Linked DNA regions of Homo sapiens. The protein of the gene in region 1 purifies or fractionates together with the protein of each later gene. This does not show direct contact. Each region holds a gene or a part of one and is shown in the gene's direction. Other genes may lie near its edges.

The links.
Region 2: the proteins of ARL9 (region 1) and CKAP2L purify together in Homo sapiens (affinity purification with mass spectrometry; one large-scale study listed by BioGRID and IntAct). This does not show direct contact.

Annotation. Positions count from the first base shown.
Region 1 is NC_000004.12:56,504,418-56,508,590, forward strand, and holds the start of ARL9 (ADP-ribosylation factor-like protein 9), read left to right. Parts: upstream 1-1,373; 5' UTR 1,374-1,445; coding exon 1,446-1,724; intron 1,725-2,115; exon of another isoform or gene 2,116-2,246; intron 2,247-4,173.
Region 2 is NC_000002.12:112,744,110-112,747,609, reverse strand, and holds part of CKAP2L (cytoskeleton-associated protein 2-like), read left to right. Parts: intron 1-1,034; coding exon 1,035-1,190; intron 1,191-3,500. UniProt on the Homo sapiens protein: Microtubule-associated protein required for mitotic spindle formation and cell-cycle progression in neural progenitor cells.

The DNA of each region.
Region 1 (4,173 bases):
TCAGGAGTTCGAGACCAGCCTGGCCAACATGGTGAAACTCCGTCTCTACTAAAAATACAAAAATTAGCTGGGCATGGTGGCACATGCCTGTAATCCCAGCTACTCGGGAGGCTGAGGCAGGAGAATTGCTTGAACCCGGGAGGTGGAAGTTGTAGTGAGCCGAGATTGTGTCACTGCACTCCAGCCTGGCCGACAGAGCGAGACTGTCTCAAAAAATATATAATTGTGCTAAACTGAAATATACTAAAGAGTTCAGTTTAGCAAGATAAAAGGAACCCTCCAGATATTTCTTAGCCAGTTTGAGAAACAATACCACCTTTGAAAAGCCCTTCGTGTGCCTTATTTACCATTTATTAGATAATTAGAAGTGACTAGACTATTTGGTTTTGGTTTTAATACTGAGCATTACTAGCAGCTGTGATCCTGGCAGGCTATCTCCGAATAATTTTTTTTAAAGTGAAATACAGGCCGGGCACGGCGGCTTATGCCTATAATCCCAGCACTTTGGGAGGCAGAGGCGGGGAGGATCACTTGAGGTCAGGAGTTTGAAACCAGTCTGGCCAACATGGTGAAACCCCGTCGCTACTAAAAATACAAAAATTAGCCGGGCGTGGTGGCCCACGCCTGTAATCCCAGCTACTTGGGAGTCTGAGGCAGGAGAATCGCTTGAATCCGGGAGGCGGAGGTTGCTGTGAGCTGAGATCGCACCACTGCACTCCAGCCTGGGTGACAGAGACTCCGTCTCAAAAACAAAACAGGAACTTAAAACAATGGAACCCATTCACGTTCTTCTATTTGTCTTTAATAATCCTGGGTAATAGTCAACTAATAATCCTGGGTAGTAGTCTGGAGACACTCCTAGCGGAGTTTACTCGGGAGAGGGCGGAGAAATACATGACATGAGCAGTACAGGCTCATGGTTGGGAGCTGAGGGAAGGCTGAGAATCCTCCCGGAACCTCTGGATTCTGACGCCCCAGGGGTTCTTCACACAGGCTGGCCGGTCTCGGGATTGAAGCCGGAGACGTCAGACGCTAAGGTTGCTTAGACTGCGGCCCACGTGGAAGGCTCTTAGCCACCCTGCCTGGCCCGAGGTAATCGCGCTAGGGACGCTTTTTCTGCAGCAATGATATACCCCGCCGAACTGTCCCACGTCCTGGTTGGGACCTCTTGGTTTCGCTTGGCTGGGCTCAATCCATCCGTACGCCTCCGCCCTTCCCTCTTTGCGAACCCCTGCGGGTTCAGCGAATCGGCTGCAAGAAGCCCTGCATCCGCGAGGTAAGCGGCGGTTGGCGGCGGTGCCGGGGTTGGCAGCGCCCGCGGGTTGTCTACGCCGCGGGGCCTACGTCTCTGTCGGGCGTGCACCTCGGGAGCCACACCTGGGGCCCAGAGCCACCGCTCAGCACGCGGGCACGCGGCGGGAGGGAAGGAAACCGCGGCGCTGGGGATGGAGAGGGGGAAAGTGAAGAAGAAAGAGAAGGAAAAGGAGACGCAGGAGGAGAAAATCGGAGAAAAGGGTAGGGAAGAGAAAGTGAAAAGAAAGGAGGTGGAGCAGAAAATTAAACAAAAGCAAGAGAAGCAGGAGAGGAGAAAGGGAAAAGAGAAAGAGGAAAAGAGGACAAAGCAAGGGAAGGAGACAAACAAAGAGAAGGAACAATTTAAGGGACAAGAAGAGAAAGGGGAGAACAAGGACAGCACCTTGACAAGGACCCCGCTCGAGCCGCTGGTAAGAGACCCAGTGCCCAGGACCCCTTGCCCCAAGGCTTTTGTCGGCCGTTCAGACCCCAGCGCTGTCTCTGTTACGTCGGAGGCCCCCGACCGCGTGGGAGCGAATGGATCTCAACTGAGGGCTATTTACCTATGGATGAAAGAGATGCGCCAAACTTTGAACGACCCATCCCCTTTTCCCGGGCCCCCTGCCCACCCTAGCCCTTATCGCTACCCCTGTGTCTTAACCTCAGTCGGGTCTGTTGTTGAGGGACAAGAGATCTCGGTCTTCATGGGGACATGGGGAACGGCCCCTCTACTGCCCTTAGATCTGTCCAGCGCGCAACACTAGCGCACAGACCACCTGACCACATTTAGAAACCAGCCCCGAACCCTCCCCACACGCAGGCCCTCTTTGCATTGAATGCGTTCTTTGTCAGAAGGGGCAGGGTTCCTGAACGCAGGAGGTGTTTGGGGACGCTGCAGTTGTTTTCAGACCACCAGTACCATGAATGGATGGCGGAAAAGTTTTAACTGACAGGTCTTAGAAACTTGGCATTATTTGGGTCAGCTGAATGGTCTCTGTGCTCCTGGAGTTCCTGAGCTGGCTCCTTGGCTTAGAGCTGCGCTCTGGTTCTAAACAATTATGAATGATTAACACAGTTGTGTGTGTGTGTGTGTGTGTGTGTGTGTGTGTGTGTGTGTGTGTGTTCTTTTTTGAGACAGGGTCTTACTCTGCCTCTCAGGCTGGAGGGATCCTCCCACCTCAGCCTGGCACCGCCCCCATCTCCCAACCTCAGTGACTGGCACTACAGGCACACGCCACCATGTCCAGCTAATTTTTGTATTTTTGTGCAGAGCTGGAGTTTCGCCATGTAGCTCAGGCTGATCTCAAACTCCTGGGCTCCAGCAATCCGCCCGCCTCAGCCTCCCAAAGCGCTGGGATTACAGGCGTGAGCCACCACGGATTAACAGAGATTTGATCTCTGGTAAAACACAGACTACATAGACTCATATTTGGCTAAAGGAATAACTTTTGACAAAAACGGTGTTCAGAATCACATTTTGTGTCTGAACTGTTTTACAAATTCAGCTTTCCTTAGGAGAAGGTAAATGTGAGGAAGCCTGAATGCAGAATTTCTAGGTAGGATGGGCGTAGGGACAGCAACGTGGTTGGAAAGGGAACTGATATTTTTGTTTTTGTTTTTTTGAGACAGAGTCTGGCTCTGTCGCCCAGGCTTGAGTACAGTGGCGTGATCTCGGCTCACTGCAACCTCCACCTCCCAGGCTCAAGTCATCCTCCCACCTCAGCCTCCCAAGTAGCTGGGATTACAGGTGCACACCGCCGTGCCTAGCTAATTTCTGTATTTTTGGTAGAGATGGGGTTTCGCCATGTTGCCCAGGCTGGTCTTCAACTCCTGAGCTCAAGCGATCCACCCGCGTTGGCCTCCCAAAGTGCTGGGATTACAGGCATGAGCCACTGTGCCCGGCCTGGGAACTGCTTTTAATTCACACTATTTTATAGGGCCTAAGATGACATTAGTCTAGGTACCACTAAGAAAGAAAAAAAAGCCGGCGCAGTGGCTCACACCTGTAATCCCGGCACTTTGGGAGGCCAAGGTGGGTGGATCACCTGAGGTCAGGAGTTCCAGAACAGCCTAGCCAACATGGCAAAACCCCATCTCTACTAAAAATACAAAAAAAGTAGCTGGGCATGGTGGCATGTGCCTGTAATCCCAGCTACTCGGGAGGCTGAGGCAGGAAAATCGCGTGAACCTGGGAGGCAGAGGTTGTAGTGAGCCAAGATCGTGCCACTGCACTCCACAGAGAGAGATTCTGTATCAAAAAAAAAAAAAAAAAATTCTCCCAATCAAAATGTGACATACTCTCAATTGTCAAAGACATTCTAATTTCAGAGATATTAAAATGTGGAATGTGGGGGGAATATGTATCTTAGAATGAATGAAGTATGTTGGGGTAGGCTGAATAGGGCCTCTGGTGAAGACTGACAGGACACAATCCACTCTTGGCTGCCATTTCTTGGTGCCAGTATTGCTTTAAAACATGCAATTTTAAGCCATCCAATGAAGTCTCCCTTGCCCCTCTTCCTTACCTTGACACACTCTCAGAATGACATCATAACATTTAGATGCAAATGAAGGGAATGGAGAAGAGGCAGGGATGGAAGACATCTATGAAAATACAATTTAGTTTAAGAGCCATCAAAGATTTGCTCCAAGAACAAATACGTACATTTTTTCTTTTTCTTTTTTTTTTGAGACAGAGTTTCACTCATGTTGCCCAGGCTGGAGTGCAATGGCGCGATCTCAGCTCATTGCAACCTCCACCTCCCAGGTTCAAGTGATTGTCCTGCCTTACTTAGCCTCCCCAGTAGCTGGGATTACTGGCATTCGCCACCACGCCCGGCTAATTTTGTATTTTTACTAGAGACCGGATTTCACCATGTT
Region 2 (3,500 bases), on another chromosome or scaffold:
TACGGCACAAGCCAGAAGGGAACCAAACCAGTGAATCCATTTCAAATTATCTTTTTGTGGGATTTAACCCTCTTTCATAAACACCTGCATAAATCCCTGACACTTACACATATACACCCCTATGACCTTCGCATGCCTGTGTCATTCTTTACACTGCTATTAGTCCTATGGAAATTCTCATCACTACTCAGTGTTCTCGTTATTATAAATATGGAATATTATGAATATGTAAATGTTTACTCTAGGATTTGTTTTGTTTTTGTACCATGTAAAAATGAACATATTTCTTACCTTCAGCTATGATAAACATTTTCTATTTGGTCTCATATAACTCTTAAAATTTAATGATGAGGAAGCCAGGCTCAGTGGCTCATGCCTGTGGTCTCAGCTACTCGAGAGGCTAAGGTGGGAGGATTGCTTGATCCCAGGAGGTAGAGGTTGCAGCGAGTTGTGATCGTACCACTGCACTCCAGCCTGGGCAACAGAGTAAGACCTTGTCTCAAAAAAAAAAAGAAAAATTAAGCCAGGCATGGTGGCTCATGCCTGTAATCCCAGCACGTTAAGAGGCTGAGGTGGGCGGATCACGAGGTCAGGAGATCAAGACCATCCTGGCTAACACGGTGAAACCCCATCTCTACTAAAAATACAAAAAATTAGCCGAGCATGTGGTGGCATGTGCCTGTAGTCCCAGCTACTGGGGAGGCTGAGGCAGGAGACTTGCTTGAACCTGGGAGGTGGAGGTTGCAGTGAACCGAGATCGCGCCATTGCACTCCAGCCTGGACGACAGAGCAAGACTCCATCTCAAAAAAAAAATAATAATTATTATTAATCTCAAATCATTAAAATGGATAATTAAAACAGGTGCATTTTATTACATGTACATTGTACCTCAGTAAAATTGAAATTTTTTTAAAAGTTCAAAAATATTAGTGATCAAACCAATTTCTGCATACCTGCTGTAATAAATATTAGGAGATGTGAGACTAACAGTGAAATGGTAATAATTACCTCTGGATATTTTGGTTTATTTCAGGGTGTACCTTCTAATGAAATACTTAACATATTGTCCAGCATTCCTGAAGCTGAAAAATTTGCTAAATTCTGGATCTGCAAAGCAAAGTTGTTGGCAAGTAAAGGCACCTTTGATGTTATTGGGCTATATGAAGAGGCCATTAAAAATGGGGCAACAGTGAGTATCTGTCTTGGGTGGGTAACTTCTTAAAATTCTCTTTCATGTGAGTTCTCTGTTGTTGTTTGTAATATGATGGTTAGAAGTTTGCAACATCAATATCCAACACTTATAAAGTCATACCTTACCATAAAGAACTTAAAAATATATTAAACCCAATACGTCAGCATCCTTAAATCAATAATTCAGAGCCATTGCATGAAATAACTTTTAATTCTAAAATTTAGAAAAAAAAACTATATAATTATTATTTACAAAAACTGCATCAAATAGTTTTATAATGCTTTTCCTTAAAATGTCATTTTCCATGTCATGTTCTGTATTCTGTGTGATACCTTTTTCCATAATGGTTCAAAATCAGAATTGTACATGCACATAGTTTAAGCAGTCAAGTAGTTTGATAAGTTTCGTTCAGTAAGACCTCTGCCTTCCTTCCCTCCCATTTTCCCCTTCCTAGAGCAAACTGATTTATTTTTATATTAACCTCTATAGTTTCAGAAAACGTGTTTCTGTTTCTTGATTTTTCAGTTTTAGATATGATTTATGGACTTCCAGCTATGCAGAGTGAAGATTTAGCCCTCTTTCACACATACATACACAGATCCCCAGCACACACAAATACACACCCCTATTTACCATCCTTATAGACCTTTGCCATTCCTTATACTTTCATTAGAGTCATGGAAATTCTGGTCACTATTTAGCATTCACATTGTTATGAATATATAAGAAATATATGGGCTGGGCACGGTGTTTCACGCCTGTAATCCCAGCACTTGGGGAGGCCGAGGCAGGTGGATCACAAGGTCAGGAGATCGAGACCATTTTGGCTAACATGGTGAAACCCCATCTCTACTAAAAAATACAAAAAAGTTAGCCGGGCGTGGTGGCGGGCACCTGTAGTCCCAGCTACTCGGGAGGCTGAGGCAGGAGAATGGCATGAACCTGGGAGGCAGAGCTTGCAGTGAGCCGAGATCGGGCCACTGCACTCCAGCCTGGGCAACAGTGCAAGACTGTCTCAAAAAAAAAAAAAAATACATGAATATGTTGAGCCATGCAATATATACTATGATTACTTTGCCTTTCAAGCACAACTTTCTACTTTTCCTGGAGTTATTGTCTTGTTTTGCCTTTGCTTAGTTTTCTGAGTATTTATTATATAATTAATTCACAAACTCTTCGCTAATTGTCTAAGTTCCTCAATACTTTGAAAACATCAGATATTCTATTGATTCCTTTTTCTTAGATAAAGAGCTTTCTCCTAGACCCTTCTGGCTTATTCCAGACTGAACAAGTTACTTTTTACTGCCGTCTTCACCAGCTGTCTTTCTGGGATCTCTTTACCATCACCTTTAGATTCCCTTTACATCCTTCTTAAGTTGGGTGGATCCCTTGTTTTTAGAACCCATATTAGTTTTCTTCTTCCTACATTGTCTATTTCTTCTCCAATGTTTTTCATTTCTTTCTCTCTTGTTATTGTTTGTTTGTTCTTTTTGTTTTGTTCTCTATTATTCTTTAAAGGCTTTACACAGATGCTGGTGAAACTGGGCTGTTTGCACATATAAAAGGTGGGTCTGAAAAAGCTTATTTAAAGCCCGAGACACATGGATGGGGCTTCAACACAGGGTGATCTGGCTGAGTTGACTAGTTAGAAAACCCTCAATATCAGTATCTTTAGGTCTTTCCTCTTAAGCTGGTCAAGTTATCTGGAGAAATCTGTTCCAATCTCCTTCCTGGGAGCTAGACACCAGGCTGCCAGTGCTGTGGGAGAGAAGAGAGCAGGGAGTCTCAACCCTCAACATAGAAACTTTTGCTTATCTCCTTTTCTCAGAAAGCACCCTATCCTAATCTTGCATGATATCCCTCAGAGACTTGCAGAATACATTCCCAGTTTTCTGTTAGGATGAAGGGAGTCAGACACAGTTACTAGGCTGCATAGAGTTTAGGGGTGCAGGATGGATTTGGAGGTCTGACTGCTTTTTGAACAGATGCTAAAGAGTCCTCCTAATTTGGGCCCTACCACCCATTCCTTAGCCTTTCTGTCAGGTTGTTTCTTAGCCACACTGCCAGCTTGGGATTCAACTCTCTCAAGTAGATCAAATTGTTTACCTCTCTTCCTTCTGCACTGCAGCTTCCAAAACCTTATTGTCATTTCTTCTCTCCTATGTTTTGTGGTTATTGCCTCTTCTTAATCCCTTTATTATCCTTTCAGTCGATTTTCAAGAGAGATTAGAAATAAACGTATATTTAATCCACCATCATTAACCAGAAGGCTATACAAATATAAAATATGCTTGATGAATGTTGTAT